Homo sapiens: one gene and its partner. The protein of the gene in region 1 interacts with the protein of each later gene in a biochemical or structural test. Each region holds a gene or a part of one and is shown in the gene's direction. Other genes may lie near its edges.

Evidence for each region.
Region 2: the proteins of DOCK2 (region 1) and PAK2 form a complex in vitro, tested with the Homo sapiens proteins (one study listed by BioGRID).

The regions. Positions count from the first base shown.
Region 1 is NC_000005.10:170,081,103-170,084,181, forward strand, and holds the end of DOCK2 (dedicator of cytokinesis protein 2), read left to right. Parts: intron 1-739; coding exon 740-882; intron 883-1,693; coding exon 1,694-1,756; 3' UTR 1,757-2,280; downstream 2,281-3,079. UniProt on the Homo sapiens protein: Involved in cytoskeletal rearrangements required for lymphocyte migration in response of chemokines. Activates RAC1 and RAC2, but not CDC42, by functioning as a guanine nucleotide exchange factor (GEF), which exchanges bound GDP for free GTP.
Region 2 is NC_000003.12:196,746,143-196,750,113, forward strand, and holds part of PAK2 (serine/threonine-protein kinase PAK 2), read left to right. Parts: intron 1-3,971. UniProt on the Homo sapiens protein: Serine/threonine protein kinase that plays a role in a variety of different signaling pathways including cytoskeleton regulation, cell motility, cell cycle progression, apoptosis or proliferation.

The DNA.
Region 1 (3,079 bases):
GATGAGGAAACTGGGGCACTGAGAACATCACTCTCTTGCCTATCACCAGCCAGCAAATGGCAGAGACTGAGTTCAGACCCAGGCCCTCTTCCCTGGAACAGGCACCTACCCACTGCCCCGCCACCACCCCCAGGATAGCCTGAACACAGCTGCAACATTTGGCCCAAGCCATTTCACTGGTATCTGCTCAGCAGGTCTCACCACACCCTGGCGGTCTGGGCTCTTTCTCCCATTTGGCCAATGTCAAAACCAGCAGTCAGAGAGTAACTAATTTTTCATGTCTCTGTGACGCCAAGCTGGGGCTGTAACCACTAGGTCATCTGGCCCCTCCACCAGGTGACACGTGGGTTTGAGACTCTCTTCCCGCTGTCTCCTGCAATGGGGAGAGAAATCCAGGGTGTTGGTGTTGGGAGCTGGAGGAAGAGTAAGCTCACACTGTCCCCTGCCTTGGAGCAGAAGGTTCTGTTTCCTGGGGATGTCAGGGCTTTGGGGCAAGGTTTTGACCAGGAGCCAGGAGGCTGAACCCTTGTCTGTAGGGTGGGCAATCTTCACTGCAAGAGGACAGCTTCAATGTCCCCTGGCACGGCAGGAAATAGGCATCCTGCCTCCTGCTTGGCACATACAATGTGTGATCCCTGGATGCTGGCTCTGTCCCCCAGCCCTCCCCCTGTCTACCTCCCCCAAGGCACTGCCCCTCCTCTACCCACCCATTCACACCCCAGCTCTGCTCTCCTTCCAGCCCTGGCGCTCTCAGTGGCAGGCATCCCTGGGTTGGATGAGGCCAACACATCTCCCCGCCTCAGCCAGACCTTCCTCCAACTCTCAGATGGTGACAAGAAGACACTCACACGGAAGAAGGTCAATCAGTTCTTCAAGACAATGGTGAGGACATTGAGGGTGGAAGGAAAGGAAGGCATTGGGAGGAGAAAGGGAAGAGAGCAATGCAGAGAGAAGAAAATGGGGGGTTGTGTGTGCATATGTGGTCATTCCTAGGGAGGCATAGTCAGGAGGCCCTGAGTTCTGGGACACTGTGCAGCAATGCCCAGAGGGCAGTTCTCCTCTGGGGCCTCAGGCAGCTCCTCTGACCAGGATTGACCCCAGCTAGGGATGTGCAGGACCCAGGGACCTCAGAAGCAGTAGGTGGCCTACCCTCGCCTAAACTGCCCCTTAGTGCTCCAGCCCTTTTTTATTCAACCTATATCACAAAATCCTACAAATTGAACATTAGTTTCCAAGCGCTGATTCTGCAAGTCCCATCTCCTATTGTTACTTGTTGGCCTTTGCTCAAGATCAAGAAGGTACCATAACACATCTGATCCTCAAGGTAATATGAAATCAGGACTCTGCTACTACAAATATCTCAAGTTTACCATGAGCACACGATGAGTCAGGCACCATGCTAAGCACTTCCCAAGCATGGTGCCATTTGAGCTCCCACTCTTAGGATTTTATATGGGAGGCTCACAGGGTTTGGTAAGTGAGGTGCCCAAGTCCACATGGCTAGTGAGCCTGGGCTCACTCTACTGTCTACCACTGCCTTTCTGGCCAAAGCCAAGGGCATAGCAGCTCACATTCACTGGGCTTTGGGCAGGGGTCAGTGTTGAGGCCCTTGTGATTAGGACTGGGAAGCTCCATTTTGGTGCTTAATCTGATAATCGCATCTTGGTTTTGTGCTTGTTTATTCTCTCAAAAGCTGGCCAGCAAATCGGCTGAAGAAGGCAAACAGATCCCAGACTCGCTGTCCACGGACCTGTGAGCTGCTGCTGACTAGGGCTGCATGGGAGAGCCAGGGAGGGGAGTTTCTGGAAGAGGAAAGCCATGCGTGGAACATCGAAGCCTCAGAGAGTGGGAGACTGTCCCCATCAGTTGTCCTTACTTAGAGGAGACAGAGAGGCCAATCAGGTCCCAGAGCTTGAATGCTAACAAGCCCAGCATCCCCTGGGGCTGTGATCATGGTGGATGAGGAAGCCTCAACGTAGATTCCTGAACTCAAGGTACCAGCAAGAATGCCTTCTCCCAGTGTGCTCTCCCCAACATCCTAGGCACAGCTTTCATAACCCAGTTTCTTAGGTGTAAGAAACTGTTTTTATCTCATTTATTAAGTCTCAGAACTTAACAGAAAAGGAAGCCTTTTAAATATTCTTTTTAATTTTATTTTAGATTAACAGTTTTGTACTTTACATTTTTTTATACAACCAACCAGTTTCTTTTCTAGCCAATCATCTCTGAAGAGTTGCTGTTTCTTACTGACAATAAAAAATGTTCTCTTGGTTCGAATAAGCCTTGTTGCCTGATTCTGTTGGCTGACTCTCCTGGGCCCAGGACTGGGCAGGAAGCTCCCTGGAAGGAAGGCAGGCCCAGGGGCTGCAGTGATGTGAAGGAGCCTGGTGATGCCCTTGCCCAATGCCAAATTTCCCCACCTCATCTATGAGAAGATTCTTCAAGAATCTCCATGACTCTTGTTCCTTAGGTGCCAAACCCTGGGCTACCAGCATGTTAAAAAAGTTGCCCTGGTCTTCCTCACGAATCTGAATAGTGGAGTGTCATACCTCCTTTCTTCACCTTTAGAAAGAGATGGCAAGACCACCCAAGCCAGGTCACTCTAGTAAAGACCAAACATAATGCCAAAGAGTTAGGAAAAGAGGGGTCTGAGGTCCAGTGGACTTATGGTCCAGCTCTTGGATCTTGTCACCGGCTCCCAAGTGGTGGCTTTTCTTGGAGGAATTCTCAGGTTTTTCAGATGAGGCCCAAAGGAGGTGAGTAGCTTTGTCAGGCAGCAGCAAGAGAGGATGGGAGCAAAGTCCCACGTCTGGATCCTACAGAGAGCAGGGAGCTGTGCAGGGGAGGGGTCCAGAAGGAGGCGGAGGACTGCATTTGAGAAGGAAATTAATACTGGGTAAGTGCATGACAACACAGGTTTCAGAACTAGAGCCATCTGGAAACCTTGGGGTGGATGCTCATTTACAGGCTGGGTCCCTGGGGTATAGTAAGAGATGAGAAAGAATGATGATGGTAGCTCAAATTTATTGAGCCCTGACTGTCTCTGGGACAGTGTTATAGACATGATAAGAATGAACTT
Region 2 (3,971 bases), on another chromosome or scaffold:
TTATTACATTGGCCTGAAGTTCCAAGACTTGGTTAAACAAGAGACGTGTCGTTGTCTTGAAATGACTCTGGTATTAATATTTTTACAGTTAGGGATGATGGCAGCTGTTGGATTTAGAGAAAGATTATTATTTTATTCTGTTTCTGCTTTACAAAAAATAGGAATGGCTTCTGAATTTTATGAGATGCTATTGTAACATTTAGATGATGATATGGTTTTCTTCTTTTAACTATTGCTGAGGATATGTAATAGTAAATTTGCTATTAATCAAAGGTATCACAAGGTATATATCGTGAATAACCAAAATCCCACTCATATTAGTCCTGCGTACGGAATTTATTGAAAGGTTAGAGGAGAATCTCATATAAATTTAGATTAATAAGAATAGGCCGGGCACAGTGGCTCATGCCTGTTATCCCAGCACTTTGGGAGGCCGAGGCAGGTGGATCAGCTGAGGTTTGGAGTTTGAGACCAGCCTGACCAACATGGAGAAACCTGTGTCTACTAAAAATAGAAAATTAGCCAGGTGTGGTGGCAGGTGCCTGTAGTCCCAGCTACTCGGGAGGCTGAGGCAGGAGAATCGCTTGAACCCGGGAGGCGGAGGTTGCAGTGAGCCGAGATCGTGCCATTGCACTCCAGCCTGGGCAACAAAAGTGAAACTCTGTCTCATTAAAAAAAAAAAAAAAAAGGATAGGCCTTTATGATAACTTCTGTAGTTAACTTCTATAACCTATTCAGGAATCCTTATTCATGAGTCACTTTTGATAATTCGTATTTCCTAGATCATTTCTTTTAGATTTTCAAATCTGTTACTATATAGGTGTGTATAATCTTTTGTCATTAAGATCTGTGGTATTCATTTCCTTTTTTTTATTAGTGATTTCACTATTTTTCTGAATTTGCCAAATGTTTGTCTACTTAGTGGTTTTTTTTACTAACCAGCTTTGAGATTTACTTATTGTATTGGTTTTTTTTTGTTTGTTTTCTGAATGCCTGATTTCTACTTTTCTCTTTATTTTGCTCTCCTGCTTTTTTTTTTTGTTGTTAACAATGTTAACATTAAGTTAATGTTAATGTTATTAATTCTTAATGAATTCTTAGTTCCTTTAATGTGTTTTCGATGAGCGGTAATCGCTCCTCGGATAGACCTCATTGGCTACGATACCGCCACTGTGCAAAGCTAGTTCATTTTAATGTCTTTTAATAATAAAAACCTTTAATGTTCTTAATTTGCTTTTGAATGCAGCGTTGGCTGCACATTCTAATTTACATGGACAATGTTCTTCTGCTCAGTATTTTCCAAATAGCTGGTGGTTCTAGTTTTGATTTCCTCTTTGACTCAGGAGGTATTTAGGATAATTCTATTCACTCATATTTTCTTTCATTGTTGTCAGCTTCTATAATCTTTTAAAATATCTTTTAAACTTATTGAGTGTTTCTTGTGACTTAAAACATAATCCATTTTGGAAAATGTTCTATGAAAACTTAGAACATTTTCTGTTGGTAATATACAGAGTTTTATACATAACCTATTGATTAAATTTAATGACTAAGATTATTTGTATGAATTACCAGTTTTTATAAATAGTTCTTACTAAATATAGGACTTAGTCTTTATTAGTCCTAGTAAGAACTATAGTCGTTATTAATAATTCTTATTAATGTAAAAATCTTCCTAATCTGCCAAAGACAAAGAGGTAGCATTGTTTCTGAGAAGCTTGTTCTCACGTTGGGACCTTTAGATTTTTATTTCTTCTGCCTGAATGTCACTGAGGCCATATTTGAAAGAGATCTTTCATGATCACCTCTGCCTACCCCCACTCCGCATCTAACTTCCTGCCCTTCAGTGTGTTTATTTTCCTTTATAGCACTTCCATCTGAAGTTTCTTTTTCATTTATTTGGTTTTCTTTAATATACTATTCTGTTTTACAGAGCTTTGAACAAATAGGTATGAAATAAGTATGTGTTGGTTGAGTGTCACTCTCTTATTTCTAATGATTTTTAGAAATTTTTATTCATTTTAATTAATAGACTTTGCAGCATTTTAGGTTCACAGCAAAACTGAGCCTAAGGTACAGAGTTCCCATATACCCCATGCTCCTCATGCCCCTCTTCTCCAAGCCTCCTGCTCATCAACATCCTGCATCACTGTGGTATATTTGGCACAGTCAGTGAACCAGCATTCACACATCATCACTGCCCAAAGCCCACAGTTTACGTTAGGGTTTGCTCGTATGGTATTGTACATTCAGTGGGTTTTGACAAATGTATAACAACATGTCTCCACCAGTATCATACCGACTGGTTTCCGCACCTTAAAACTCTCTGCTCCACCTGTTCCTCCCACTTTTACTGCAACCCCTGGCAACCGCTGATCCTTTTACTACCTCCATCGCAATGCCTTTTCCAGAATGTCCCGTAGTTGGAATTATATAGCGTGTAGCCTTTTCAACTTGGCTTCTTTCACTTAGCAGTATGCATCTGAGGTTCTTCCGTGTCTTTTCATGGCTTGATAGCTCATTTCATTTTAGCACTGAATAATATTCCATTGTCTGGATGTACATTCACCTATTGAAGGACCAGGTTTGGTGATTATGAATAAAGCTGCTGTAAACATTGATGTGTGGAGTTTTTTATTGTGGTGTAAAATACATGTAACAGAACTTACCATCTTAACCATTTTGAAGTATACAGTTCAGTGGTACTAAATACATTTATAGTGTGCAATTATCACCACCATCCATCTCCGAAACTTTCCATCCTGCAAAACTGAAATTCTATACCCATTGAACCATAACTCCTCATTCTCCTTTCTGTCTGCATGATTTTGGCTACTCTTATGTACCTTATGTAAGTGGAATCATATTTTGTGTTTTTGTGACTTATTTCACTTATCCTCAAGCTTCATCTGTGTTGTAGCATGTCAGAAGTTCTTTTCTTTTTTTTTTGGGTGAATAGTATTCCCATGTGTGTATTTACCTTATTCTGCTTGTCCATTTATTCATCAGTAGACACTTGGATTGCTTCCGTAATTTAGGTACTGAGATTAATGCTACTACGAACATGGGTGTACAAATACCTCTTTGAGACCTTGTTTTCAGTTATTTCGGGTACATACCCAGAATGGAATTGCTGGGTCATATGATAATTCTGTGTTTCATTTTTTGAGGAACTACCGTATTGCTTTCCACAGCGCCTGTATCACTTCACGTTTCCACCAGCAGCGCACAGCAGTTCAGTTTCTCTACATCCTTTTTAACACAACCGTTGTTGTTTTTAATAGTAGCCATCCTAATGGGTATTAGGTGGTATCATGTTAGTTTTGATTTGCATTTCTCTAGCAGTTAGTGATGTTGAGCATTTTTTCATGTACTTATTGACCATTTGTATATCTTCTTTGAAAAAATGTCTATTCAAGTGCTCATGTGTAGGTTTTCGGGTGGACATAAGTTTTCAGCTGATTTGGGTGAATACCAAGGAGCATGATGGCTGGAGTGTATGGTAAGAATGTATTTCATTTTGTAAGAAACTGTTCAACTTTCTTCCAAAGTGGCTGTACCATTTTGCATTCCCACCAGCAATGGATGTGGGGGTTCCTGTTGCTTCACATCTTTTCCAGCATGTCATGTTATCATTGTTTTGGATTTTACCCATTCCAATAGGTAGTAGTGTTTCATTGTTTTCTGTTTTTTTTTTGAGATAGAGTCTTGCTCTGTTGCCTGGGCTGGAATGTAGTGGCACGATGAGAACTCACTGCAGCCTCGAGCTCCTAGGCTGAAGCGATCTTCTCACCTCAGCCTCCAGAGTAGCCAGGACTACAGATACGCTACCTTACCTGGCTATTTCTTTTTTTTTTTTTTGAAACAGAGTTTCGCTCTTGTCGCCCAGGCTGTGGTGCAATGGCATGATCTGGGCTCACTGCAACCTCCGCCTCCTGGGTTCAAGTAATTCTCATGCCTTAGCCTCCCAA